Linked DNA regions of Homo sapiens. The protein of the gene in region 2 interacts with the protein of the main gene of each other region in a pairwise test. Each region holds a gene or a part of one and is shown on either strand. Other genes may lie near its edges.

Region 1 (7,022 bases), on a different chromosome or scaffold from region 2:
TCATGGTAATGGAAGGCAGAGCTCACTTTTCAAGTTAGGGGGTAAAGGAAAGGGAACCAACACGAGCCAGGCACTGCGCTAAGTACCTCATGAAATGTATTTCACTTCACCCTTGCAACCACCCTACCAGGTAGGTGTTAGTTTCTATTGTTGCATGTGTTCCTTATTCTTTTTTTTCCCTCTTTTCCTGCCCTCTTTGGATTATTTTCTTGTCTTCCATTTTATCTCCACTGTTGACTTATTAGCTAGGACTCTTTTTTTAGTTTTTATCTTTTTAGTGGTTTCTCTAGGGTTTATAATACACATATTTAATTATAGGTAGATGTTCTAACTTCAATTTACGTATCAGGAAACTGGAATTCAGGGCAGTTAAATAATTTTTGTAACATGTCATGGCTTCAAACTGGTGGATCCTTCACTCCATTCTTACATTATCCCAAATTGAGAACTAATTTTTTTTTAAAGCCATACCTTAACCCAATCAAGGACTCATTAGCAGTTTGATTTGTGTGTCAGAAACTCCTAAAGTGCAATCCATGGGATGTATCCCATGAGATATTAGGATTTCATGGTGAAAAAAGGGCTTTTACGGTCAAATAAGTTTGAGAAATAGTGGGCAAATATATTAAATAGTTCACTTTTATAGCACTTCCCAGAGCTTATCATACACTGAAATGTACTATGAAAATGTAATAATGGTGGTGACCCTGACAAATTTATTTGATGCTGGAACCATTTTTCCAGAGTATTTTCTGAACTAGTGTTTCTTCAAACGGACTTTGGAAAATGCTGCTCTAAGAGAAAGTCAGTGTTTCCTGTCACCTTATGCCAGCTTTCTCAAAGAAGACTAAGTATTGTTAGGTAGTAAGAGCACTTTATGGGGTCCTGCCCCTGAGTGAGCCGTGGTCCTTACCTGTCATGAAGCACTTGATGTCCTGGGAGTTGCTGATGGGGTTGTTGTTTTTGAACATATAGAGATTAAAAGGCATGACGTTGCTGCTACTAAGGTGCTTCCACAGCTCGTGGTCTGGGCTAGTCCAGCGTCCGGCCAGCACATCATAATCTCGCCGGCCCATGTGGACAAGCTTGGTGAGTGGATCATAGAGGCCACCATGGTAGCCTATGATGATCTGAAAGTTGGGGTTGGTATCCATGTAGATCTCCCCATAGGCTGTGTACAGGATTTGCTTGATCATCAAACCTGTTCCACTAAAGACAGCAAGAGGGGTCCCGATGTTGTCACAAGCTATGTAAAACTCATCACCACTGCTCAGCTCCATGGCAAAGAGGTGTCCTTGCAAGTCGTAGTAGAGGGAGGTGATCTCAGAGCTGGAGTGGTTGTACAGGTGGGTGACCTTGGTGGGGTTGGTCAGGTCTGCATAGAAGAACTGCAGGTGGTGGCTGTGGCTGCTCTTGCTGGACACGCGCCGCCCCAGGCCATCGTAGCGGTACCTGACACTCCAGCTGCCAGCCCGGTTGTAGGCCTTGATGAGCAGGCCAGCTGAGTTGTACTCAAAGATATCACCGCCCCGCTGCCTCAGGAAGCCATCCTCATCCATCTTGTATTGCACGTCACCCAGCCGAGTGATGCGGTCGCGGATGTCATACCGTAGTGGTGTGAGCCGTGCACTGTTCCCAGGGCTCAGTAAGTGCAGGTTCCCATTGAGGTCGTAGCTGTAGCGCCAGAGTGGCTTGTCATTGATGGAGACTGTCTGCAGCTGGCCGTCAGCATCATACTCATAGGAGTAGCGAGTGGTATTGGCGTAGGGTCCTACCTTCAGCTCCTTCTTCACTACTCGCCCCATGTTATCATACTGGACGGTCATCCAGTACATGAGCGAGCGGAAGATCTCATACTGCACTTCCTTCATCCTGCCATATGCATCAAAATGCTTGGTGTGGGTCATGACAGCTGTGGTGATGATCTGGTTAATGTCATAGTAAATGACACCAAACTTCCCAAACTGCTCTGTCTTGCCTGACACATCATCATAGCGATAGAGATCAATGGGCAGTGGGGTCTCGTTGATCACAGCCTGCATGCTGGTCACCCGGAAGCTGTTGTCATAGTTGTAGTCAAAACGGGCGTTGACCATGCCTTCCTCAGTGAAGCGGAAGATCTGTCGGTCAATCAGGGGCCCAATCTGACGGTAGCGGATGGTGCAGGTGAAGCCCTCATTCTGTAGGTTGATGGTCTTCAGCATGCCTGCCGTCTCGTCATAGGTGAAACTGACCTTGGTGGTGTCATAGAGCGTCTCTGCCAGCTTTGACAGTTTGCCATACTTGTATATCACCCTGCGGCCAGTGCCCAGGTAGAAGGTGTGAAGGAGGTGCCCATCCTCAGTGAAGTCCTGTATGACTGAGGCATTGCCCTCAGGGGGCTGATAGATGTTTCTGTAGTAGCCCACTGAGCGGATGGTCTCTAGTGTCTGCCGCGCCACGTTGGGCATCGTCACAGAAGAGAGGCGGTCATTCTTGTCGAACTCAAAGATATACTGCCTCTGGCTGTGTAGTAGCAGCACCATGGACTGGAGGGAGAGGAAAACCAAGAGATGAGAGGAGGGTGGTGAGGAGAAAGGGTAGGTCTACATACCCGAGACTTAAAGGGACGGAATGAATGTCCAAGGAGAATCCTGAGTTTCCATGGTTCTCTTGAGTTATGCTCCAACCAGAGCTCTCCAACAGGAGTGTCACGGGATACTGCAAATAGGTTACAGATGTGCCAAGATGAGGCTTTCTCTCAGCCTCATCTTAGCACAGCTTTAACCTTAGCACACCTGTAACCTACCTGGGGCCTAGGCCTCCAGGTACTCAGGCCATTTGCTGTCCTATGGTGAGCAGCCTCGTGGGTTTGCCCCTTTGTGCAGGACAGACCTGGTTACTTTTGTGCGTGGTGGGGTGTGAGAACGGCCAAGAAGCTTTGGCCTGAAGTATGTACAGCAGTCTGGCTTCCTTGCCCCAGACTTCTCAAACCAATCTTCCTATTCAGGCAAGAGTGAGCTCCTCCAAACACAGTCTCACAATTTCTTTTACCTGCTAAACAGTTTCCGCTGACTCCCTGTGGCTTACAGCACGAAGACCATATTTGAGAAGGGCATTTAAGGCTTTGCACAATGACAGGTCATAAGCCTACTCTGGGATAGGGCAGACTGTGATGGGAATGGGAGAACCTGGTTTCTAACAATAGTCTCCTTGTGTGGCCCTGGGAAAGTTCTTCCCCTCTCTGGGTTTGGGTTTTCAGTATGTTGGATGACCTCCAAGGTCTCTCTCTCTCTTAGTACTAGCGCAAAATGTCACTTTTGGGGGTACTCACCCAGTGGGTAGAGGAGACCCACCTCAGAGCAAGCACAGCCTATGCCCTGGACAGGTCACCAGGGTCAGGAAACAAAGCAGGGATCTGGATACTTGAAATGGGGCATGCAGTGCACTTGTTCTCAGGAAAAGATCAGCAGATAAAAGGCCTAGAGGCTTTATGCTGCAAAGCTACCATTTTTTCCTATTTGAGACCAACTTTTGATTTTAGGTCATTTCTGATTCTTACCCCTGGGATGACATGAGTTCTGATGCTAGAGCAGAATAGATTTACTAAGGCCATGCCCAGCACTTGAAGCTCAGGAGTAAGTGCCTCCTGCCTATGTACTGATGCCTAGGCTTCTGCCTGGTTCTCCACAACTGGATTGTACCACATGCCCTAGACCTGGGAGCAGACCCTTGGCCTGGGTCTGAACCCCGAGTCCTGCTCTGCAAATCCAGTGAGTATTTGGGCCTCTACTCTATCAGGCAGGTCTTTCATGTTCTCCTGCCCTAGGACCACCACCTGCCATGCTATCTCCCTGATCCATCCTGATGCCTCTTGGGACCCCATGCCCTCTGTGGCAGACTTTCCTGAACATTTCCTTTTGGTGACATGGGTCAGATACAGCCCACTGAGGCCACCAGGCTGGGCTTGGCCGTGAATGATTGGCCTTCTGTATGGCAAGGCCAGTGATGCAGGGAGACAGACACCTGCCTTCTCTAAGTATGTGTAGCTCCATGTCTTCCCATCAGCGAAGATCCTGGATGTGATGCGGCCCGCCTGGTCGTATTCCATTCTTTCAGACATGATGCCCCTCTGGATGCCAGCAATGTAACCCCCAGGGGAGTATGTCACGTTGACACCATTCAGCCTGCTGCTGGGTGACCAGAGGCTGGGCCGCCCCGCCTGGTCGTACAGAATCCGAAGGGTGAACTTGCGGTGGTCATCATAGATCTTCTCTGTGCGTGTTACGCGATCAAAGTCCAGAGATAGGAGATTTCGGTTGTGAACCTGGAGAAAGGGTTGGAAGGAAAGAGAAAATTAATCTGGACCATGAGAACTTTGGTCTGATGGGCCACGTTGCTCTCAGCTCTGCTGGGAAGCTCTTGAGTAGAGGAGGGAGCACAGTCCTGCGCAGCAACAGACATGGGTTTGAATCCTGGCTCTGTCATTTGTCAGCTCTGTGAAGTTTCCTCACCTGTAAAATGGGGACAATAATGCCAATTGCACAGGGTTGTTGTGAGGATGAAGATGATCCCTATGTTGAGAAATCAGTAGCTGTGACCAAAGAGGATCTGCATGTTTTCTAATGTGATTCTTCTAATGAGGACACGTTTTAAAAGGCAGATCCTTCTTGACTCCCTGCTGAAAGGAGACCCACCAAGTGAGCCCAGAAAATAAACTGACCCATCTCTTCCACACCAGACACTGCGGAGACCAAAGCTCAGGGAGGTGAAGGGATTTACCCTGGATCTCGTGGCTGGTGAGTGACGGAGTCTGGACTTGACTCTCACACATACAACGTGCCCCCAAACACTCAGTGGCCCTCTGAGCAATTCGTGGCCTTCTGGGGGCTCTGAACTTCCCAGCCCCTGTCGGGTGTCTCCTGCTTGCCACTACAATCAGGGCTTCTTGATTGCCACAGTCAGTACCCAAGACATATTCTTCCCAGAGGTGCTGGGAGGCAGTGAGTGTTTGTCACTGGGATGGCTTTTCTGCCTGTGGGCCGAATGGGGACACAGTCCTGGCTTTGAGGCACTTTGCTCCTGCCTTCAGGATCGGGAGTGCCTTGTATAAACTCCACCTGGACTGCTAGGCCAGCACACAGTTCAATTTCCTTTCAGAGTCAGAAAGACAGGGCTCCTACAGACGTAGTGGTAGGTTAGGGTTTTTATATTTTAATAAAGAAATATACTTCAGGGGCCTGTTTCTGTATTTGGATCTGCCCTGTAGGCATTGGTGGCCCCTGAAATATTGCCAGGTATTCTGGAACTAAAATACTGGTTTCCGCTAATTGGTGTCTGGCCTTATGGGACATTTGGGCACATTTTCTGTCTCTTCCACTAGTCATTGCTTAAGGTTGACAAGTAATACAGAAGACCCAAGAGGAAAGCAGATAATTAGGTCACGTGATGCAAAATGGCATGTGTGGACCGAGGCAATGAAAGGCCCTCTGGATCCCTGTGTGGTTAAAAAAAAATGGGTGCAGGTCTAGGAATGAAGGCCAGGATTCTAGCTGCAACTTTGTGACCAACTTTTCTATCAACCTTGGGCAAGTGCCTTCCCCTATCCGAGTCTCAGTTTCTTACTCTGTATAACAAGAGTTGTTGTGAAGGTTGAAGAAACTTAGTAAATCAGTGGAGTGCTAGGCACATAGAAGGTACTGAATAGATGGTTGGAATTATTTCCATTAAATGACAGCAAACGATCGTGGTCATATCCCAGGAAGGAGAGATGTGTGTGTTTCCTCCTTCTCCCACACAAATTCTAAGGCCTTGAAAATAACGATTTATAATGACGATGCTGACTTTAGCTGTGAATGACCTGGTTATAATAAGGTTACCTTCTCTGGGGTAATCAAACACAATTGCAGATGCAAAAACAGTGTGGCAGATGATTCCCATGAAAAATCAGAGGCATTGGAGGCTGAAGCTGTGTTATTTGCAGACAGGGCACAGGAAGATACAGGGGCTGTGCCACCAACAATGACAGAGGCCTTTTTAAAGTATCTTTTGGAAGGTCCCGCTGTGACTCCCCTCAGGGTGGTGCCACCCAGCCAGCTGTCCCCCTTTCTCCCTGGAGGATCTCTAGTGAAGGGGAGCTGTACCTTTTTGGCAAAATTAATAAAATTAAACAGCTCACTGGGGAGCCGCCTAATGCGTCCTGTGCTCGGCAGTGGCGGCAATGAGATTATTTCACCTCTTTATTAAAAAAGTTCCCAGTTGTATAAAAAATGAACTCCATTATGGGGAGGCACACCCGGCTAACATTCTAATTCCACCTGCCACCACTGTGGGTGGCCATTTATTTGGGAGGACATGTAGACGTGGCCACCCGTCCCAATCTCAGGTTGGGAGAGGGACCAATTAAAGCCTGGGAAACTTTTGGTCCAGTTCACACAGCAGAGAGGAAATCCTAATCATGCTAATCGCTGCCATTTATTGAGCACCTGGAGTCTACCTGTGCTGGGCTAGGTGCGTTGATTGTATCATCTTGTTTCTGCAGAGGCACCTGAGGCTCAGAGGAGCTGCTCAAGGCTCCACATGGCACAGGCAGGAATCAAACCCAGGTCAAACTTCCCATTGAGGACACTGCCTCAGAGGCGCATGCAGGAGTCTGCGAATTCAGACGGGGGAGCTCAGTGAGGCCACAGAGAACAAAGACAGCTAGGCCTTCCTCGGGGAGCTAGTGCAAGGCTGTTTCCCACAGTAGATAGTCACTAGAGCTCTTGGCTGTTGAGGGAACAAACGAAGCCTGGTTTTCTGGGTTCCAGTTGTGTGATATTGGATAAGTCACTTACTGTTTCTGTAGCTGCTGTGGGCCTATTTTCTAGTTTTTTTTTTTTGAGACAGAGTCTTACTCTGTCGCCCAGGCTGGAGTGCAGCGGCGCGATCTCGGCTCATTGCAACCTCTGCCTCCCAGGTTCAAGCAATTATCCTGCCTCAGCCTCCTGAGTAGCTAGGATTACTGGTGTCCCCCATCATACCCAGCTAATTTTTTGTATTTT
Region 2 (7,699 bases):
CCTGGCGACAGAGCAAGACTTTGTCTTAAAAAAAAAAAAAAGAAAAGAAAAGAAATCCGGAACAAGAGCTGGAAGCAGCAACCCACGTCCCATGTGGGCTGGGCGGCGGCGGCGCTGGTCAGGCTGAGCAACCCCATCCAGGCTGCGTTATCAATGGCCCTTGTCTGGCAGTCAAGCCACTGGTTAGATTTGGTTCCACTGGCTCACAGGGACAGACCATGTGGCCATTTAGAAAAAAGGCTTAAGGGGTAGGGGTGAAACCCTGGGACATGAGAAAGCTGGCAACTGAGCTTGGCCTGCATAGGAGGCAGGAGGACTCAGCCAGGAGGGGCAGCAGGAGGAGGGGGGCCAACGAGGCCAGCACAGCAACTGAGGAGGACTTCTCAGTCTGCAGGCAGTCCGCTGTGGCAGCAGAGGAGAAGCGGCTGAGTCCCAGCTGCACCTCTCAAGAATGTGGAGGGCGCAGATAAGACGGAAGCTCCTGTGGAGGTGGGGGTGGGGCAGGGATGTTCCAGGGCAGATGAGAGCAGGCTGCTATCGACAGTCCCCACCTCTCTCTGCCCTTGCAGACCCCTGACACTGAGCAGCCAGGGGGCGGGAGGCGCTCAGGGCGGCCTGCAGAACAGAAGCCCCTTGGCAGAGGCCCAGCCCTGGTCTTGTGGTTTGCAGACTTGGAAGTTCAAGAACTGACTCAAAGGTATTGCTTATGAGGAAAAAGAACCAAGACTATGGTGAGAAGGGGACACATACGTGGTGGAGCTCTACTGGATCCAGCCTGCAGGCCCCAAGGACGCCTTTCCGATGGAGGCAATCCCAGACCTCACAGCAGGGCCTGCACTGCCCACGCCATCTCCCGGGCTGTTGCTGTGACACACTCTCAGGGTGGCCCCAAAACATAAAGCAGTGTTCTCATGGGGGCGATTTTGTCCTGAGGGCACATTTGACAATGTGTGGAGATGTTTTGGATTGTCACAACTGGGAGGGGGCCCTACTGACACCAAGTGGGCAGAGGCGAGGGTGCTGCCGAACGTCCTACAACACACAGGATGGCCCCTCAACAAAGACTCGTCCATTCCAAAACAGCCACGGTGCCAAGGTGGAGAAGCACTGAGAGAGAGACCTTCCCAGAGGCAGAGCCTGGGGCTGCCAGACTTTCTAACCAAAAGCTCTCAGTTCACTGGCAAAGACAGTCACCAAACAGATGCCCAGGAGATCTGATGGGCCTGCGTTTACCTCCCTCCCTCACCCTGCGCCCAAGGACACAGTATATGCTCTGCGTCAGTGACTGAGACATGGTGTTTTTCCTGTATTCCTGTTCAATTCCTGCCCTGGAACTCTGGGCCCGACTGTGGACATGTCCCCTCACCTGCAAGGGACTCCATCAGGGTACTGCTCTCTTTAGCACCTGTGGGCTCTCCTCCTGGCTCCATCTTGCAGAACACCAGCAGTTGGAACAATTTCTGCTTAGGTAAAAGAAAAGGAAAATAAATCACAGCCAGGGCTAGGTACAGGGGCCAGGGGCAGTGAGGTCAGAATGCCTTCAGAGGAAACTGTCAGAACAGGCCCTGTGGGAGCTGCATCACCCAGCTGGGCCCACTCCTGTCACTAGCAATCAAGGTCCTGGCTCAACAGACACTCCCAGAAGCGGGTGTTCTGTTCTGTGGGATGCCCAGGAACTCTGGTCCAGGCTCTGCGGGTCCCCCTCCACCCAGGGCTGACGCAGAGCACAGGTGGGCGTGGCCACAGCTTCCTAGCTCCATGCTGAGGAAGCCCGCGCCCTCCAGCAGTCTTCAAATGTCTAGAGAAATTCCCATGGGTTTTAAAATTTTCTTGGTAGTTATAAGGATTTGAATATAAAAATGTTAAACCAGAAGAAAAGAACAACTTATTTGAATGGTAAAGTTTTGGAATGAGGAATGATTTTTCTAAGCCTGACATCAGATGTCTGACAAATTCAACTACATAAAAAAATTTAATGTAAAAAAAAAAAACCAAAAAGGGAGGAATACGTGCAATGCAAAGATTCATCCCTATCTGATAAAGACCTCTATATATTAATGAGAAAGGAAGGAAAATTGGCAAAGATCATGAATAGGTAACTCACAAAGAAGAAAAACCAGTAGGCAATACATTTTTTTAGGTCTCACCTCAAGTGCAATTAAGAAATGTAATTTGGCTGGGTGCTGTGGCTCACAGTTGTAATCCTAGCACTTCAAAAGGCTCAGGATGGAGGACTGACTGATTACAAGAGTTCCTGACCAGCCTGGGCAACATAGTGAGACCCCGTCTCTACAAAAAATCAAAAAATTAGCCAGGTGTGATGGTGGGCGTCTGTAGTCCCAGCTACTAGGGAGGCTGAGGTGGGAGGACTGCCTGAGCCCAGGAGGTCTAGGCTGGGGTGAACCGAGATTTCGCCACTGCACTCCAGCTGGGCGTTGGAGTGAGACCCTGTCTTAAAAAAATAAGTAAATAAAGTGATTAATTAGTAAATTTAATTTAAGCCGCCTGTAATCCCGCCTGCCAGGGAGGCTGAGCGGGAGGATCGCTTGAGCCCAGGAGTAGGAGGCCAGCCTGGGAAACATAGCGAGACCCCGCCGCTTTTACAAAAAGGTAATTTAAAGTGCAATTTTTTAGTCTGGAAGCAGATTTTTGCAAGTACCTTACCGGCAAGAATTAGGGAACAGGCCCTCCTGTTCACAGCTGGGAAGAAGCTCGATGAGCTGGGCCGGTGGGAAATTTGACAACTTACAAAGGCCTGAAGACGCGCAGCGGGGACTCAGCTCGCAGGAAGCCCCGCACGTGTCGGACCCCGGGTACGCACCTGCAGGGCCGCCTCCCCCACGCCGCGCCCGAGAGCGGCTGGGGCCTGCACTGCAAGGAGAGCGCGGGACGCGCGGGCCACGGCGGCGGTGACCGCCCCGTTCTCTCGGCCGCGCCCTCAGCCCTCCCGAATCGACACCCCAGCAAGAGAAGCCGGGGCCTCAGCGTCCAGAGCAGCTGGACTGCACCCGCTACGGTCCCCGCCCCGTCGCGCGCCGGAAACGCCAGTCTCCACCCCTGGCCCGCCCCCTCGGCACTTCCGGCGACGCTCTGGGCAGCGGGAGGACAGCGCGCTCGGCGGCGGGAGAGCGGGACGGCCCAGCCGCGGCGCCTTCAGCTCATCGGTTGCCCGCAGGCGCCGGCCGAGTCCTTCCTGCCGGGCAGGAAGCCCTGCCTCGTGGGGGGCAAGGTCGAGCCGTTGGCGCGCCGGGATCCGGCTCGAGCCAACTGAGGACCGGGCACCCGCAGGACGTGTCAGGAGGTGTCGAAGGCCCGCTGTGGGGCGGCCACGCGCGTTCCCGTCCGTTCCCCGCGGCGTCCCGCGCTTGTCCCGGGTCCCGCTCGGCTCACGGGACCCTCCAGGCCCCCGGGGCTGTGGCAGCACGCGGGTCCCGAGCGTGGGCTTCCTTGGGGCCGAGAGCTTGGAGCGCCCCAGGCGCTGCCCCCCGCCTCCCTGCAGGACGCCGCCCTCGCGTCTCCGCTGCAGAGAAGCCCTTGCTGCCCGCCTCTCGCGGGCTCTGGGCTCTTTCTCACCAGGGACCGAGCTCTCATTCGTTCAGCCTTCCCCGGGCAAGATGCACCTCCTGTCCAAGTCTCTCGCCCTTCCGCCTGCCGCAGACCGAAGGTCACGCATCTCCAGCTGGAATGCTGCAAAAGTGACGCTTTTCATCATGGGTGCAAAGTGTACAGCTGCAATGTGGACTTGTTCCCTCTTACAACGAGTAGACAGACCCTCTCTGGGGAGAAAAGAAAGGCTGAAGAACCGATTCCCATGAGAGAACCCTAAGAAGACAGCAACAGAGGGCCAGACGCGCCCCTGGAACTGGACCCTGGACTGGGGCGGGAGGGCCACAGCCTTGGGAGCCCAGGTCCCTGCCCGCGCCTCCGACAGTCCCGCGCCGCCGCCACCCGGCATCTGCCTCTGGGCCTCCACATCTCGTGCCTGGAACCGCGTTCATTGCGCACTGCACCAGTAAACACCTGAACACTCCCACCACATGCTGCACGTTTATTTGTAACAAATTAGAAGCTGTTGTAAAAGATAAAAATTAAAACACTTAGACTGGGTGGGCGAGAGGCTCATGAATGTAATCCCAGCACTTTGGGAGGCCAAGGCAGGAGGATTGTTTGAGTCCAGGAGTTTCAGACCAGCCTGAGCAACATAGTTAGAACCGTGTCGACTAAAAATTTTTTTTAAAAATTAGCCGGGCGTGGTGGCCGGCGCCTGTGGTACCAGCTACTCGGGAGGCTGAGGCGGGGGGACCACTTGAGCTCGGGAGGCGGAGGCTGCAGTGAGCCGAGATTGGCACTGCACTCCAGCCTGGGTGACAGAGATTCTGTCGCAAAACAAAAACAACAACAACAACACACACCACACACACACACATCTAAAAGAGATGATGTAGAAGTACAAGTAACCGTTTCCCTCTGCATCCCAGTGGAACGTCGTGGGTCTTCTGAAGACCCTCTCTTGCCCTGCAGGCTCCGGTACTCCAAGCACGCGAGTCTGCGCAGGAGGCGCTTCGCTCTCCGGAGCTCCCCACTGCCTCCTAGACACAGTCCCGGCTCCTTACCCCGGGCGGAGGCTCTTCCAGACGGGTCCCGACTGCCTCTGTATGCCCACTGCTGCCGTGCCAGAAGCCACTGCCCTCTCCTCGCCCCTTTCCAAATGTGCCCTGCCTCAGGCCCGTGTCATGCTGTTCCCTGTGCCGCTTTCGCCCGTCCCCTCACTCCCCGCCACCAGAACCGGGAAGGCGGTGCCCCCTTTCCAGGCCCAACTTCCGGCACTGAACCTCTAGGAGTCCGCAGCCTCCTCCGCCCGGGCCTCTCCCCGCTGGCTCAGACCGCAGGGCCAGCAGCCCCGCCCACACGGAAGCCCCGCCCATCAGGCCGACCCCGCCCCTCCTGCCTCGGCCCCGCCCTCGCCTTGGCCCCGCCTCCTCGCTGGCAGCCGGCAGGCGCAGTCGGGGTCGTGGGACCCAGGAGGGGCCTCCAGCAGGTGCCTTGGCGAAGATCCTGGACTGCGTCACAGCCCAGGGTAGCCGTCCCGCGGCCCGGCTTTGGAGCTTCCCACGGACACCCGGGGCTCTGCCTCCTCCGAAATCACCCCTCACCGCTTCCCTCCTGCTCTCCCACAATGGGAGGCCACACGCTGGGGCCCCTGAGAAACAGAATCGAAAACACAAGGCAGGACTCCAGGGACATGGGGGTGGGGGAGTGAATCCAAGCAACTCAGGACGCCCGCGAATAGCTCAGATCCTGCGAAGAGCCCGCGCCCTGGAATTCTGTTTGCTAAGGGGGTCCTCACGGTGTAGGGTGAGACAGAGAACCTCTGGGCAGTTGCAGGTGGTAAATGTCCATGATAAAGGGCAAGTTCACAGTCTAGAAAATTCTGGATTTCTTGATCCAAAAGTAGCCGAGTCCAGGCCGGAGAGGTGGCTCACGCCTGTAATCCCAGCACTCTGGGAGGCCAAGACAGGAGGATCACTCGAGGTCAGGAGTTCGAGACCAGCCTGGCCAACATAGTGAAACCCCATCTCCACCAAAAAAAAAATTACAAAAAATTAGCCAGGCATGTTGGTGCTTGCCTTAGTCCCAGCTACTCGGGAGGCTGGGGCAGGAGAATTGCTTGAATCCAGGAGGCGGAGGTTGCAGTAAGATTTCGCCACTGCACTCCACAGTGAGACTCCGTCTCAAAAAAAAAAAAAAAAAAAAAAAAAAAAAAAAAGTAGCTGAGTCTTAGAATACCACCCCTTCAAGGACTGTTTCCATGAGCCTATCCACTGAGTCTCTTACCTGCTACCCTGAAAAAAAAAAGTACGATGAAGAAATTACCAAAGGCACCCCTGAAAAACAAAGACAGCTGGGCCTGGCGCAGTGGCTCACTCCTGTCATCCCAGCACGTTGGGAGGCCGAGGCGGGTGGATCACCTGAGGTCAGGGGTTTGAGACCAGCCTGGCCAACACGGTGAAATTCCATCTCTACTAAAACTACAAAAATTAGCCGGGAGTGGTGGTGTTCGCCTGTAATCCCAGGTACTCGGGAGGCTGAGGCAGGAGAATCACTTGAGCCCGGGAGGTGGAGATTGCAGTGAGCTGAGATCACGCCATTGCACTCCAGCTTGGGTGACAGAGTGAGACCTGTGGGGAAAAGCAAGAGAGATCAGATTGTTACTGTGTCTGTGTAGAAAGAAGTAGACATAGGAGACACCATTTTGTTCTGTACTAAGAAAAATTCTTCTGCCTTGAGATTCTGTTAATCTATGACCTTACCCCCAACCCCGTGCTCTCTGAAACATGTGCTGTGTCAACTCAGGGTGAAATGGATTAAGGGCTGTGCAGGATGTGCTTTGTTAAACAGATGCTTGAAGGCAGCATGCTCCTTAAGAGTCATCACCACTCCCTAACCTCAAGTACCCAGGGACACAAATACTGCGGAAGGCCGCCGGGTCCTCTGCCTAGGAAAACCAGGTATTGTCCAGGGTTTCTCCCCATGTGACAGTCTGAAATATGGCCTCGTGGGAAGGGAAAGACCTGACCGTCCCCCAGCCTGACACCCGTAAAGGGTCTGTGCTGAGGAGGATTAGTAAAAGAGGAAGGAATGCCTCTTGCAGTTGAGACAAGAGGAAGGCATCTGTCTCCTGCCCGTCCCTGGGCAATGGAATGTCTCGGTATAAAACCCGATTGTACGTTCCATCTACTGAGATAGGGAAAAACCGCCTTAGGGCTGGAGGTGGGACATGCGGGCAGCAATACTGCTTTGTAAAGCATTGAGATGTTTATGTGTATGCATATCTAAAAGCACAGCACTTGATTCTTTACCTTGTCTATGATGCAAAGACCTTTGTTCACGTGTTTGTCTGCTGACCCTCTCCCCACTATTGTCTTGTGACCCTGACACATCCCCCTCTCGGAGAAACACCCACGAATGATCAATAAATACTAAGGGAACTCAGAGGCTGGCAGGATCCTCCATATGCTGAACGCTGGTTCCCTGGGTCCCCTTATTACTTTCTCTATACTTTGTGTCTTTTTCTTTTCCAAGTCTCTCGTTCCACCTAACGAGAAACACCCACAGGTGTGGAGGGGCAACCCACCCCTTCAAGACTCTGTCTCAAAACAAACCAATCAAACCAAACAAAACAAAAACAAACAAACAAAAAAAGACCTCAGAGAAAGAGGACTGTTGTTCAAAGAAGAGGCCGTGGGTCAACTGAAGCAAGTGGACACGCAGCCAGGAAACAGGTGACACAGAAAGGAAGGACTCCCAGTCTCCTGGCAGAAGGAGCAGGGGAGGCAGAGACCTCTGAGTTACCCCTGGAAGCCGAGGGCCTGACCCCCACAGCCGCAGGATGGAAATCCTGCCACGGCCCGAATGGTCAGGGAAGGACCTCAAGCTCCACAGGAGTTCGGAGACCAGGACAGCTTAATGGCAGCTCCAGGAGACCCTGGCAGAGACCTCAGCCAAGCTGTGCCGGGCTCCCGCGTGGCAGGATCTGTGAAGTAACAGACGGGTTTTTGGTGAGCAGGTTCCAGGTGAGACACACCAGTGGCCCTAAGAGGAGAAAATGCAAGGGTGGTAGGAAGTGGCGGGTGCACCAAGACCTAGCGGCCAGCCTGACCAGCACTGACTGGCACCTTGGTGCTGTGCAGTCAAGGAG
Region 3 (7,365 bases), on a different chromosome or scaffold from region 2:
GCAAATATTTTCTTTTTCTTTTAATTTTTAGAACATTTGCATGATACCCTAAACACATAATCTAGGGAAATGGCTTTTTATATGAATAGTCTCCCTTAATTAGCTATTAGTTGAAGAATATATCCCAAATGGTACCGTAAATTACCCTGTGTTTGAAAGCAGGTTAAGAATTTCACCGACAACATTCCCAAATTAGGAGCAGTACATTAATGTTGAAAGTCCCTCCGATACCTGTTGGGATCCTTCCCTTCAGTGCCATAGGCTTCATCCTCATGAAGCCCTTTTAAAGTGAACACCGAAGGAATCCCTATGGATTGGCCACAGTGCTCTGGGAAGGATTACCTCTGCCCTGAAAAAGAGAGGTCATGTCAAAGGGACGTGAGCACAGTGCTCTCCACCTCTCAGAACCAGAGAGCACCTCTTCTTCAAAGTGGGGGACCACAGAACCAAAGCTGTTCCACCCCTTCCTGGAAGGTGCAAAGTCGCCCGGCGGGCGTTCGCATCTTACCACGAACTCCTCCAAAGTCTGATAGGTCTTGCCCCGGAACTCGCAGTAGTTCTTCCTCTCCTTGCACTGCGGGCAGCACTGGCTCGTGTCGACGTGGATGCAGCGCGGGTGCAGCCTCGGGCACTCGGGCTGCGCGCACAGCGGCCCCTCCTCGGTGCACAGGCACGGGCAGGCCGAGGGGCCCGGCGCGAACTTCTCCCCGATCGCGTACACGAAGCCGCTCTCGTCCACGCAGCCCTTGCCACGGTAGTCCGGGTACACGTACTCCTCGGGTGGCTCGGGCGTGGGCGCGAGTTCCGGGCCAATCGCGTCCTGGGCGGCTGCGGCCAGGGCTTCCGCCTGCGGGGTGTCCCCGCGGGGCCGGACCTGCAGATCCCCGGCCTTGGCGCCCCCGCCCTGGGAGACCCAGGCCTGCTTCAGCTTGCTCCACGGCTCACGGCCGGCGAGCCCACGGCCGCTCTTGCTCTTCCAGTCCCGGCCGCTGCCGCCCTCGTCCCTCGCCGGGCGCCCGAGCTCGTTCACCCGCCCCGGGCCGTCCCGAGAGGCGTGCTCACGCTTCTCCTGGCCCGGCTGCTCTGGTGCCTGGGCCAGCTTCTCCAGCGGGATGCTCGGACTGCACAGAGCCACCATCAGGCAGCAGGTGACCAGGAGGGAACTGGAGAGCGCGCCAACTGCCATCGCAGTGGAGCTGGGCATCCCCTACCACGTCCCGGCGGGCGGGCGGGCGGGGAGCGCGGCCGAGGGGCGAGTCGCATTCACAGCCCGGGGGCGCGCCGCCGCCAGCCGGGAGCCGCCGTCCCTGCGGAGAGAACAGCAGCACAACTGAGCCCCGCGGCCCGCGCGCGCCCCGGCCCGCCGCGGCCCCCACCCGGGCTCCGGCATAGCTCTAGATTAACGAGCTGGGCGACGGGGGCGGGGGCAGCATGCCCAGCGTCGGTGCACGGCCGGGGTTCTTAGACATCACAAACTGTGGAGCGATACATTGGAAGCGAAATCCAAGAACGACACCGGCCGGCGTGTTTCTGATGTAGTCGTGATTAGTGTTGGAGATGGCCAAGGGCGGCTTGCGGAGCCCAGGGAACGCAGCGAGCCAGGCCCGCGCCCCCCTGCAAAGCTCTGCCTTGAACCACGTAATTCAGGCACCCAGGGTGTCCCTCCCTAGGTCCTGGCCACATTTCCCGAAGGTTATTAAATGGAGAATTCAGCAGTGGAGTTAGAGACGGACGAATGTACAGGAAGATAAGAGGGAAACTCTTCCTCATTTGCTTTAGGGGGTTGTGCTGGGAAAATGCGGGGAGGTTAAACAAAGCTTCTCCTAGGACTCCACGATTCATTTCTAACAACTTCTTAAAAGACTCCCGTCTCGGGAGCAGACGCCCCCTCCCCGCTCTCTAAGCCCCGCTGCATGAAAGGATGCCCTCGGCCCCTTGCCAGAGGGCCGGGTCGGGGATTCCCGGGGCTTCAGCTCCTCTGCCGGCCCGCCCCTCCGAGCCTTGGGAGCCAGGTCGCCGGCCGCAGCGCTCAGTCTTGTAGTGTCCTGGCTGCGGAGCAGAAGCGCCCGGGCAGCACCAAGGTGTGCAGTGCGGGAGGCTGGGGCCCCAGGGCGCAGAGTGGGCGCGAGACCCTCCTACTCGCTGGATCCCGGCCAGCCTTTCTGGATTCCAAAGTTTCTGCCGCCCAAAGGGGCTGGGAGAGCCCGAGACGCCGCAGGACACCGGCAATCCAGCCTCTCTCCGCCTCACTCCCCGAACGCCCCCACTCTGCGCACTCCGGTGCGTCTGTCCCCTCCCCCTCAGCCCTCCTCCCTGAGGGCTCCGGACGTGCCCGGCCCTGCTGACCCCCTGCCCGGTCCCTGCCGACCTCAACACTGGGCGAAGCGCCCATATTCACAAACTTGGGCGGGGGAGGGGGTTCCTCCGGAGCAGCTGAGCGGCTGAACCCAGCTGGAGCGCGTCCGGCCGCGCGGGGACACCCAGCATGCACCCTCAGCCCTGAAGACCGGCGCCAAACCTACATACATGAGCGCAGGGCGCGGGCCGGACGCCGGGCTCGCAGCGGGCGCAGGGGTAGCAGCGGCGGGCGCGGGCCCGGGTTGCCAGCGCCCATCCTGGGCCGGCCGGCGACCCGCGTGGGGCGGACCACTAACAGCCCAGCCCCACCTGCGCGCTCCGCCTGGCGCGCACACCGGGCTAGGGCGTCTCTGGGGAGTCGCTCATCGCGCTGTCAGCTGCCGGTAGTCGCGGCCCCAACTCGCGTCAGTGCCCGCGTCGCCCTCAGTCGCTCATCCTCCGGCCTCGTCCCCGCTTCTCCGAGACCAAGCGCGCCCCGGGGGCCACCCTGGCGCCGCCTCGCTCCTCTCCGCGGAGGGGTTCGGGGAGCTCTCCAGACCCGGCAGCCGGAATGTCTGGGCAGCCGTGGCGCGTCGGAGGGAAAAGAGAAGCCCGGAGCGCGGCCGGCGCGCGAGTGGCACCGAGGCCAGCATGGGAGCTAGCGCGCCCGCCTCCCGCCTCCCCCTGCCGCAGCCGCCTCCGCCCGGCTCCCGTTCCGCTCCCTCCTCTGCTGCCCCCGCTCTGGAGGCCCCGCCTTGGCCCGCGCTGCCCCGGGGGAGGCCCTCGCGCTGCCCCCGGAGAGGCCCTACCGCCGCACCCGCTCCCTTTGCTGCGCCGGACCAACCTGTCACTCGTCCGCGCGGCCGCGTCCCCACCTCCGCAGCCGGCCGCAGACCCTGCCAGGGCTGCCATTCTCCAGTCGAGTCATTCACTTTGCGCTGGACCTTTCATCTTGGCTTTTCTCTTTTCTTTAATTTCTTCCTTCCTAATTGGCCCCCTCTGGCTTTCCTCTTTGTGGACAGCTTGTTTCAGCTACTGTGTTCAGATTGGGATTCGAAGGCCGTGTTAGTTTAGCAGACTGTTGAGACTTTCTCGTCTTTGCATTCAGAAACCCAGAGAAATAGACGTTTACGAGTAAGAAACGTAAAAATCTCAAGCGCGAACTTTCTGAATCTCTGCCAATCTCTCCCCGCTCCCATCTTCCTCTTTCTGCCTGCTCTCTCTTCTACTACAAATAGAAACCTGTTTCCTAACTTTGCTAGAATCCTCAACTGTTAAGCAGAGGCCCGGTTGTTTTTACTCTTTGATCTTGTGTAAACGAGAAAACGTCAATAGTACCTGTTCAAATTAATCCCCGAAATTGAATTTTCATGGAAATGGCCCATGGCAGTGGTTCCCACTCACGGCATTTTAGAATCCCTGAAAGTGCTCGGACGGTAAACAGATAAGCTTCCCTGCAAGGTCAGGCGCTCTGGCTGGTGGGAACTGGGGAGGCTGGTTTGGGACACAGTTATGTCTATCTTTTAATAGTATAGACAAACAAATCTTAGCTGAGGTGCTAGGGAGCCCTCCTTGAAAGCCTGAGAAGGCTGCCCCTCCACCCCCTCCAACACATACACAACCAACAGGGCTGGATGGAGGATTTCTTTCTCTCTCTCTCTCTCTTTTTTTTTTTTTTCAGACGGAGTCTCGCTCTGTGGCCTAGCCTGGAGCGCAGTGGCGCGATCTCCACTTACTGCAAGCTCGATTCCCGGGTTCATGCCTTTCTGCCGCCTCAGCCTCCTGAGTAGCTGGGACTACAGTCGTCCGCCATCACCCCCAGCTAATTTTGTTTTTGTATTTTTAGTGAGACGGGGTTTCACCATGTTGGACATGATGGTCTCGATCTCCGGACCTCGTGATCCTCCTGCCTCGGTCTCCCAAAATGCTGGTGAGCCACCGCGCCTGGCCTGGATGGAGGATTTCTATGTACAGGATGATTTGAGCCCTTCTGCTGTTTCAGTTCTCACTCTCATTTTTCCTTTTTTTTTTTTTTTTAATGTTTTAGAGACACGATCTCACTTTGTCACCCAGGCTTCAGTGCAGTGGCATGATCACGGCCCACTGCAGCCTCAAACTCCTGCCTCAGACTCCGGAGGAGCTGGGTGTACAGGTCACCACACAGGGCTAATTTTTTGTTTGTTTGTTTTGTTTTGTTTCGTTTAGGTTTTTTCTTTTGTTTTTTTTTTGTTTTTTTTTTTTGGTAGAGATGGGATCTTGCTTTGTTGCCCAGGCTTGTCTTGAACTCCTGGCCTCAAATGATCCACCCGGCCTCTCAAAGTGCTGGGATTACAGGTGTGAGCCACCACACTCGGCCCTTTCGTTTCTTGTTACCCTCAGAAAAGAGACAGGCCACATTTGCTGTGGCTGCAGCTGCCTACCCACCCACCTGCCTCTCATCACATGCTCTAATCAGTTATGGCTTCTGTGTCTTTATGATGCTCTAATCCAAATATCACACCTTTCACAACACCACCAAAATAAAAACACGGCTCGAGGTGTGATCATATGTAATGTGCAAAATGGGCCCTCGGTTCTATAAAATCAAGTGCTTTTATAGCATTGGTTAGGCTACAAATTTTGTTATTTGACTTATTAGCTAATTCTGTTCTTGTCATTAAACATCCTGTTTGTTTTGTTTTGCCAACAGTACTCTCATGTGGTTACGATGGGGTAGCCCCAAACACATGTGACTAATAAGAACGAAACAGTAACATTATGTGTCCAGGATTCTAACTGAAAAATTGATTGGGGGCTCAGCTGAGGAAATAATGATGTCCCTTTATTAATCCCACCTCAATCACCGGTCTCTCTGAATCAGAAACTTCTTGTCCCAGCCAGCTGCTTCCAGTAGAGAGCCATGAATATGAGATAGCCAAGTTTTCAAGAAGAGGCCTGACAAAACTGAGGATGAATTAAGTGACCAAGTGTCCAAATGGCTTTGTTCTGTTAGATATTCTCAGAGATAGTGTTACAGGCCTGATAGAATGAGGGAGGAAAGCAGTTTCCAAGGGATTGCTGTCCTTTGTGAAGAAGAGCAATACCCATGCAGCTTGATGAGCTGAGTAATTCGAGAAAATATAGGGGACTTTGCAGGCGTTGAAGGAATATACAATTTATTTATTGCCAGTGCAATGAATTGTTGCGATTAACTTTTCTTCTTTCCTTCCTTCTTTGTTCCTTTCTTTCCTTCCTTCCTTCCCTTTGCCCTCCTTCTCCCCTTTCTCCCTCCCTCCTCCGTCTCTCTCCTTTTCCTCTTTCTCTCCCTCATTTCTTTCCTTCTTTCCTTTATTCCCTCCCTCCCTCTTTCCTTTCTTCCTTTCCACTTATTTTCCTTTTCCTTGCTTTCCTTTCCCTTCTCTTCCCATCCCCCCTTTTTCCCTTCCCTTCCCTTCACTTCCCTCCCCTCCCCCTCCCCTCCCTTCCCCTCCCCTCCCCTCCCTTCCCCTCCCCTCCCCTCCCTTCCTCTCTCCTTCCCTTCCCTTTCCCTTCTCTTTCTCTCCACTTCCCCTTGTTCTTCCCCTTCCCTTTTGCTTTTCCCTTCCTCTTTACTTTTCCATCCTTTCCTTTTTTCCAGGCTAGAGTGCAAGGCAGGAGCAGAAAGATCTCTGGTCAGGGACTGAAGTGACATGAGTGTAATCCAAGTTCCACCAGGGGCCAGTTTTGCAACTTTGAACAAGTCACTCAGTGTTACAGGCTCTTTGTTTTCTCACCTTTAAAAGGGAAGAGAGAGGATCTCTGAATGAATAGGAAGCCCAAAGCACTCTAGGAATATAGCACATTTCTGCTTTCATGCCCCGTTTTAACTGAGTTTGTTGCTTCCATTTTCTTCCTGTGTGCAAGAGTTAAATCCATCTGCTGAGGTACAGTCATATTTAGTAGCCGGTGTGAGAGTCTGAGCTTGGCCACAGGGCCAACCCTGAGCAATGCAGAGCAAGTGGGTTCCAGGCAGGATTCTAGGCCAGTCACCTTTCCTGTCCCTTTTGGCAGAATTAATCTTACCTTTATTTTCTCCCCAGAGAGTGGTTTATGTCTCTTGTAACAGTTAACTTTTTATGTCAACTTTTTTTATGTCCCTTAAACTTTTTTTTAATGTCAACTTTTTTTATGTCAACTGTTTTTTTAATGTCCCTTATAACAGTCAACTTTTTCATAGCTCTGCATTATCTGTACTCACCTCTGAAATGGTTGCTTATTTAAGGGCAATGGCTATGCTTTATTCATCCTTCTATTCTTAGAGCCAATAGGACCAATTGAGGAGGGAAAGGGAAAAGGAGGGAAGGAAGCAGCAATAGAAGGAGGGAAGGAAAGAAGGAGGGAGGGAGGGAGGGGAGAAAGAAAGGGAAGGCAATTCAGAGGGAGGGAGAGAAGAAATGCGAGGGAGGGAGAGAAGAAGAGCAAGGGAGGGAAGAAGGGAGAGAGGAAGGAAGGAAAGAGGGAAGGGAGGGAGGAAGAAAGGAAGTAAAGAAAGAGAAGAAGGTAGTGAGGGATGGAAAGAGGTAGAGAGGGAATGGGGGAGGGAAAGAAGAAGGATGAAAGAGAGGGAAAAAATGTAGGAAGGAAGGAAAGAAAGAATGAGGGAAGAGAAGAAAGGAAAGGGAAAGAAGGAAGGAATGAAGAGAGGGCAGGAGGAAGAGAAGAATTGAGGAAAAGAGGAAGGAAGAGAGAAAGTAAGAAGAGAGGGAAGAAGGAAAGGAAGGGAGGAAGGGAAAGAGGGAAGGAACAAAGAAGATAGGGAAAAGGAAGAAAAGAAAGATGAGAAGAAGAAGGATTGAAGAAAGGGAAGAAGGAAGGAAGGAGGGAAAGAAGAAGGATGGAAGAGGGAGGGAGGGAAGGAAGGAAAGCCAGAATTAGGAGAAATTCACTTATTATTTATACAATATTGGGCAAGTTCACAACCATCTCATTCAGTTTCTTACAATACTACTAGTCTTAGCAACCATTACTGTTTTTCATTTTGCCCATGGGAAACCATGCCTGAAAGAGGTT
Region 4 (7,022 bases), on a different chromosome or scaffold from region 2:
GCCTAGAAGCGGCTGGGCGCAGTGGCTCACATCTGTAATCTCAGTACTTTGGGAGGCCGAGGAGGGCGGATCACGAGGTCAGGAGATTGAGACCATCCTGGCTAACACGGTGAAACCCCGTCTCTACTAAAAATACAAAAAAATTAGCTGGGTGTGGTGGCTGGCGCCTGTAGTCCCAGCTACTCGAGAGGTGAGCAGAGAGATCGTGCCACTGCACTCCCACCTGGGTGACAGAGCGAGACTCCGTCTCAAAAAAAAAAAAGGTCCTAGAAGCAAAAGGCATTCATGTAGCAATGAACACATCTTGTGTCCAGATCATAGTTTCTGAATGCCATTACCCACCAAAAGGAACCAGGGAGCTCTTTAGGATAATGGCTGATTCTGGGACTGAGGCAGGTAAAGCAAAAGGTAATCATAGAACATCTTATTGTGCCAGAAACTATCAAACTATGCTAACATTATATATATATATAACATTAGTAGGTGATGTCAAGTTACAGTGAGTGGCCCCAGACTTGAAACGATACCCAGGAAAAGGTGTCAGCTCATGGCCCTGCTGTGCAGGATTGGAACAATTACCTCCTGCATTTCTGAATCCCTGCAAAGCTATCTGAAAAGGAGAGTAAGGATAGAATTTCTCTGGGCCGAATTGTGAACCCAGAGCAATCAGCTCAACTCAACATAAGGTAAGGACAGTTCTTCAGCCTTTCAGAGGAATTCCAAACTTATTTGTTCTATTAAGGTAGGAAGAGAAAAGAGTCTTGGCCAAACCTATAATACAGAGATTACTAGAAGAAAAAACAAGAGAAAAACAAAGTCCCTTAATGAAATGAAATTTGATACTTACCTAATGTGGATCTGGGTATGCTGACATCCTCTTTGGCAGTCAATGAAGTGCTATCATCTCTGGAAGGTATCTGCATTGAACCCTAAAAAATTGCAAAAGTCAGGGGACTTAGGAAGATGCAGGAACTATGATCACAATGACAGTACTGAGAATATTCTCAGAATTTGGTATTAAAATTATCAAACTTACACCTCAAATGTAAAAAGGAAATGGAATCAGCATGAATTATGTAAGTCTATAGTTCTTACTTGATCAGTCTGTTTTCCAAGACGGCCAGTGGGGGTAACTTCAGCTTGTTGGTTAGAGATGGGTGCTTGGGACATCAGGGAGTCTCTCCCTCCTAAATATTGGCGCAGGGCCTGTAATTCTGAATTTCTTTCCATTAAGGCTTGCACCAACTTCTCTGCAGCAGCCTAGTAAGAGGAAATCACAAATAACATTATAAAGATATTCTAGTAAAACAAATTTTTTGTTCTGGTATTATTTCTTCAAAGTCAACCATTTGTAAAAAACAAACAACAATGACAACAACAAAAAACAGTGGGTCCTTAGGAAATAGTTTCCTTGCTTTCAGTTTACAGGGAAAAACAGAGTTAAGTGAATGGAAAGAAAGTCTCATAGGCAGAATATTGGGAAAAAAAACTGAATTTAACACATCTGTAACAGATAAGAGAATCTGAAATAGGTTCTGCTACAACTATCAGGCTAAGGTGTTAAGATTCTGGTTTGAATTAGTATAACAAATGTCTTTATTCTCGGATAGTTGCTTCTTAGGGGTGGATTCCTTTTCACTCAAACATTTGTGTGGTTTGCTCCCTTCAGGTCTTTGCCAAATGTCACCTTATCAGGTTGGTCTTTCCTGCGTATCCTATCCAAAACAGCAATCTTGCTGGCCAAAGTATAAGATGAATATGTTTTGGGGATCCAATGATAGCATGGTGACTTTAGTTAATAATACTGTATTATTTACTTGAAATTTGCTAAGAGAGTAGATCTTAAGTGGTTTCACCATACACGCATAAAATGTGTAGTGACGGATGTGTTAATTTGTGGCAATCACTTCAAAATGTATATGTATATCAACACATCATGCTGTACACCTTGAGTATATACAATATTTGTCAATTATACTTTAATAAAGCTGGGAAAAAATTTTTTTTAAAACCCAGCAATCTCTTCTCTATCTCCAACACTTCTTACTGTGCTTAATTTTTTTTCGATGCACTTACCATTATCTAATAGATCTCTCTCTCTGCTTCCCCTACATGGAATGTAAGTTTCCTAAAGGCAATTTGGTGCTGAATCTCAAGCACCCAGTACGGTGTCTGGCACATAATAGGCACACACTACATATTTACTGAATGAATCAATTACGCACATAAACATGTTTATCAGACCACATGATTAGGATAATCTCAACCTCAAAATCACCCAACTCAGCTTGTTTCATTTCAAATCCCAGTTTTCTAAGACAGATGATGACACACTAAGGGAAAGATCTAGAACATTTTTAACTATTAATGCACAGGAAGTCTGCATTTAAACAGAAAATCTGGAAATAATAAATTGATATTAAAATTACTGAGGGTCTAAGATGATGAATCATAACACCAACTGTCTCTGAGGAAAAGTACTATTGTTTTAGGGCAGAAGCTGAGCTCTTGTCACAATTTCTAGGGGAAATATGAAAAAACCTTCCACTTTTCAGTAAGTAAAATTTGGGCTCTTTGGAGATTTGAATTTAACTATTTTAGACGTATCAGAATATTATTAAAGTACCTTAATAAAAATATCTGTGAAAACTGTGGGGAAAAAACATAATAAATAATATACAAGATATATACTGTGCTCTATCTGCCTTGGCACTCCTTTTCTCGTAGTATTTAAGAGTTTTTAGCAGTGCTCCTCCAATGCAGTCCCCGAACCTGCAGCATCACTATCACCTGGAAACTTGTTAGAAATGCAAATTCTTAAGTCCCACCTATACCTCGTAATTTCTTTCTCTGGAGTTGAGCTCCACAATCTACATCTTTAAAAAGCTATTCAGGTGATTTCTTTTGCACGTAAATTTAGAGAAGCAGATCTAGAAGAATACAACCATTAATCTTCTTGAGTTGAAAAATCTCCTGTAATTTCCATCATCTCCATTATTCTATTACCAGCAGTGCATAATTTTTTTTCTGAGGTATAATAAAGACCAATTGTCCCAAATCACAAAGAAGTTAAAAAGAAAACTCAAAGATCCTAGCCTCTTGCCAAAGATTTAAATAATTTAGAATAATTTTGTTAGGTCTATTTTAGAAACAATTTCTGAAGCACACAGCAGGACCTTTCTAGAAAGATGTGTATTTACTTCAGTGGGCCTAACAATTAGAATAGTGGAGTATAATCCTTTCACAACATAAGAAAACATAAGAAAATATTATGGGGTCAAATAACATAGGCAAAAAAGAGTCTATCTTCCTCTAAAAACTGACTACGGGGATTCTGAGCTACTGGTATCTGAAATGCAGCACAAGTCAACTAAGAGTTTTTAGCCTTGAGGAGAAAACACATAGAAATGAGGAAAAATTAACACTTTACTATGGGCAGGGCATGGTGGCTCACGCCTGTAATCCCAGCACTTTGGGAGGCTGAGATGGGTGGATCACTTGAGGCCAGGAATCGTAAGCCAGCCTGGCCAACATGGTGAAACCCCATCTCTACTAAAAATACAAAACTTAGCGGGCATGGTGGTGCATGCCTGTAATCCCAGCTACTTGGGAGGCTGAAGCAGAAGAATTGCTTGAACCCAGGAGGCAGAGGTTGCAGTGAGCCAAGATTGCGCCATCGCACTCCAGCTGGGTGACAGAGGGAGATGCCATCTCAAAAAAAAAAAAAAAAAAGAATTTACTTCTTAAATATTGTGAAATTAATATACCCTGTACTATTATGAGATTGTTTATTCTCACCATGACCTCTGAAAAATGCGATCTTTTTTCCCTCTTAACTCAGATTTTACAAAAACTAAGAGTAAACATGTTGAGTGTAAGTTTTCCCATACCTTGACTGGAAATGCAAAATATCACTCAAGTCTTAACAATTTAGAATCAAAATCGAAACACTCACAACCCCTACTCCTTTCTCTCAAAATTATCAGATTATTAAGGAAAAGAAAATGTATGTAATGAAGTTAATGGATACATGTATTGTTTAGGCACCCTTCCAAATGCAAGGTTTTCAAGAAATGTGTCATACTTTGATGATTAATGTAAAACTGTGGTCTAAGGCCAGGCGCAGCAGCTCACACGTATAGTCCCAGCACTTTGGGAAGCCAAGGCAGGATGATTGCTTGAGCCCAGGAGTTTGAGACCAGCCTGTGCAACACAGCGAAACCCCCATCTCTAAATAAGTAAGTAAATAAATAAAACTGTGGTTTAGGTAATAAATAGAAGGAAAGAAACTAACAGAGTTGACGGTAAAATATATAAATATACACACATCTATAGTCTGCAAATGCTTCCTATTTGCAGACTATAAATGCACTACATGACACTTGTCTGATCTGTGCATTAATCCTTACTTGGCTTTCCTGCTCCCTGGTGCTCACAGACTGAAGCAGGCCTTGAATCTCCATTTCATGTTCCAGCACTTGTTTATTTCGATCACTTAGAAGGTCCTGCAGCATCCTTTCCTTTCGCTGTAGACGCTGGCACAGCTCCTCTGCTATCTCACTCTGCCCTGGTCCAAGTTTGCAGAGCAGTGTTGCACTAAGATCCTAATGCAGAAAGGACACTGTAAGCTTCTGGAGGAAAGAAATGCCTCTGCTAAATATCAAAGGGCTTATAAGAATCTATCATAGAAGAAGGAGGTGTGAGATTCTTGAGAATAAGTATCATGTTTTACTCATTTTTGTTTTACCAGATCTAGCACAGGCCTGCTACACAGAAGTCTCTAAATACATGTCCCAGGAATGAATACAAACCATACAGAAAACTATCTCTGGTGGCCACTTACATACATATTGTTTTCTGAAATAAGTCTTTTTCCTATTTGTTCAGGGCATGTAACAATTAATGTTAGATGAGGATAAATGGACACTCAGTTCATTTATTTGTTTTCTCCCCAGTGTAACTTAACAGGGGGAAGCATAAAACGATAAGCTGAAAGGAATACTAAACACTATATTTGCTATCATAGCGATGGTTTCTATTTCTGTACTAACTGATGGCACATGGTGGAGGAATGGAGCCATACTGCCTAGGTTGATACTGGATCTGCTACTTATTAGCTATGTTAGCTTGGACAAGTTACTTAGCTTCAGAAGTCTGTTTCCTCCTCTATAAAAAGGAATAATAGAAAGTACCTCATGGACTTGTGAGGATCCAATGAGTTAATATCCATTAGGATCTTAAAACAGTACCTGACCCAGCATGAAGACTATAACTAATAAAGGTTAGCTATCATGTTAAAGATGCAATTTTTGGGTCTCATTAATTCTCACATAAGTTCTTTGAGAAAGTTAATTGCCAACTTAAGTTTCTAGACGTGGGGAAAAAAAAAATCCCAGTGAAAGTCAATGACTTGCCCAGGCACAGAATGAAATTAAAGACTTGGGTCACAGTCCTCCCAATCTGAAGAGTCCTAATCCAAGGCTGAGATTACATAATCACTGAACCAACTGCCTTAAAGTTAACTGAAGTCTTGCCTCCACTTCTTTGTTCCTATCATGAAGAGACGTCTGTAACTGCTGAATGATACTCTCTTGTTCCTTCTGCCAACGGCTAAATTTGGTTTCCATTTCTTCTTTCAGCCACTGGAGGTTTTGACAGGTAGTAGATAACTGTTCCACTTCCAGGCCTTTGGCCCTCAGGAGACTCTCCATACTCTACAGCCATAAAGAGAGCAATAATCAGTCAAAATGATTACCCCATACTCCTCAGGATAAACAAGAAATTAGATCCACTTTTAAATAATCTCCCATCAATTTTTTTTTATTTGCAAGATGAGAACATTGATCTAACAATGCCATACTAATCTATTTTTTTGGTTTTTAGAAACTTTTATCTAGTTTGTGGAGAGATTAAATATAGAATATATGATAAAAGGAAGTATTTTGGAGGAAGTGCACTATGCTATAAAGGATTTCTCGAAAAAGTGGCAGATAGATACATAAGCTCTAAAATAAATATGCAAAAAAGTCCACAGTAAATATAGATAAACAAGTGTTCTAATTATGGCAATTCATGGACATGTAGATAATATTAATGTAGAAGACACAATTTAATAATTGCACCCTGGTAATGCTTCAGTAAAAGTAAGAGAGAGAGAGAAGAGCGTGTGTGTATGTATACTTATGTATGAACAAGAATTGGAAATAAATCAGAACTATGTAAACAGAAATCAATATTTACTGGCTCTCCTCACAAAGTTCATATTACAAAAGAAAAGTAGAAGCGCTAAAATCTCTCACTTGCTAATTGACAATGATGGAACTAGTAACTGCTCTTTTTGGTTTTCTTCCCCCTTATAAAGCAAAATCCCTGGTTTTCAGAAAATGATGGAAGGGGGTCATGCTTCAGGCTCAGGATACAAGTGGGAGAGGAACACCAAGTCAGAGATAGGTTTTGCTCTTACTTGCATAGTAGCTTCATTGGAGGAGAGGACATCGCGCAGTCTCTCTAAGTCATGATCTCGCTCTCTCACAGCAAGACGAAGCTGGCGCAGTTCTTTTTCTTTCTCTTCTAGAGCAGAGAATTTTTCATCTATAGCCCGCTGCAAGGAAAGGAAGACTCCTAAAGCTCTGTAAGATTTACTATCCTGATCACTCTTATTCAACAAGATGGCAGAATAGAAAACCAAATCCCAAAGCAGCAAATTTAAGCAAACACAAATTTCTATAATACCTATGTAGATAGAATAATCCATAGCATAGTGGGCGAAATGATGATACATACCTCCAGAGCAACAGCTTTATCATGTATTCGCTGGCGAAGTTTCTCAAGCAACATTTCATTTGCTTCAAGGGTTTTGTCTGAGTTATCTCGATACTGTAGGAGCTCCCGAAATTCCTGAGACCAAAAATAGTTTCTTTTATTCTTTTATCCAATATTAACTAAATTACCAAGTAATTTGCTAGTTATTCAGGATAAAAAAAAAACAAGATGTGATCACTCTCCTCAAAAGTAACAAGTTT

What was found.
Region 1: the proteins of ZNF696 (region 2) and TENM4 interact in binary tests that used the Homo sapiens proteins (3 or more experiments, as listed by UniProt).
Region 3: the proteins of ZNF696 (region 2) and VWC2 interact in binary tests that used the Homo sapiens proteins (3 or more experiments, as listed by UniProt).
Region 4: the proteins of ZNF696 (region 2) and PDE4DIP interact in binary tests that used the Homo sapiens proteins (3 or more experiments, as listed by UniProt).

Annotation. Positions count from the first base shown.
Region 1 is NC_000011.10:78,668,024-78,675,045, forward strand, and holds part of TENM4 (teneurin-4), read right to left. Parts: intron 4,307-7,022; coding exon 4,010-4,306; intron 2,529-4,009; coding exon 914-2,528; intron 1-913. UniProt on the Homo sapiens protein: Involved in neural development, regulating the establishment of proper connectivity within the nervous system. Plays a role in the establishment of the anterior-posterior axis during gastrulation.
Region 2 is NC_000008.11:143,286,733-143,294,431, reverse strand, and holds the start of ZNF696 (zinc finger protein 696), read right to left. Parts: upstream 3,016-7,699; 5' UTR 2,665-3,015; intron 1,461-2,664; 5' UTR 1,431-1,460; coding exon 1,367-1,430; intron 1-1,366.
Region 3 is NC_000007.14:49,769,275-49,776,639, reverse strand, and holds the start of VWC2 (brorin precursor), read right to left. Parts: upstream 3,003-7,365; 5' UTR 2,527-3,002; intron 1,308-2,526; 5' UTR 1,205-1,307; coding exon 509-1,204; intron 1-508. UniProt on the Homo sapiens protein: BMP antagonist which may play a role in neural development. Promotes cell adhesion.
Region 4 is NC_000001.11:148,966,418-148,973,439, reverse strand, and holds part of PDE4DIP (myomegalin), read right to left. Parts: intron 6,898-7,022; coding exon 6,784-6,897; intron 6,602-6,783; coding exon 6,464-6,601; intron 5,715-6,463; coding exon 5,535-5,714; intron 4,605-5,534; coding exon 4,410-4,604; intron 1,261-4,409; coding exon 1,096-1,260; intron 930-1,095; coding exon 848-929; intron 1-847. UniProt on the Homo sapiens protein: Functions as an anchor sequestering components of the cAMP-dependent pathway to Golgi and/or centrosomes.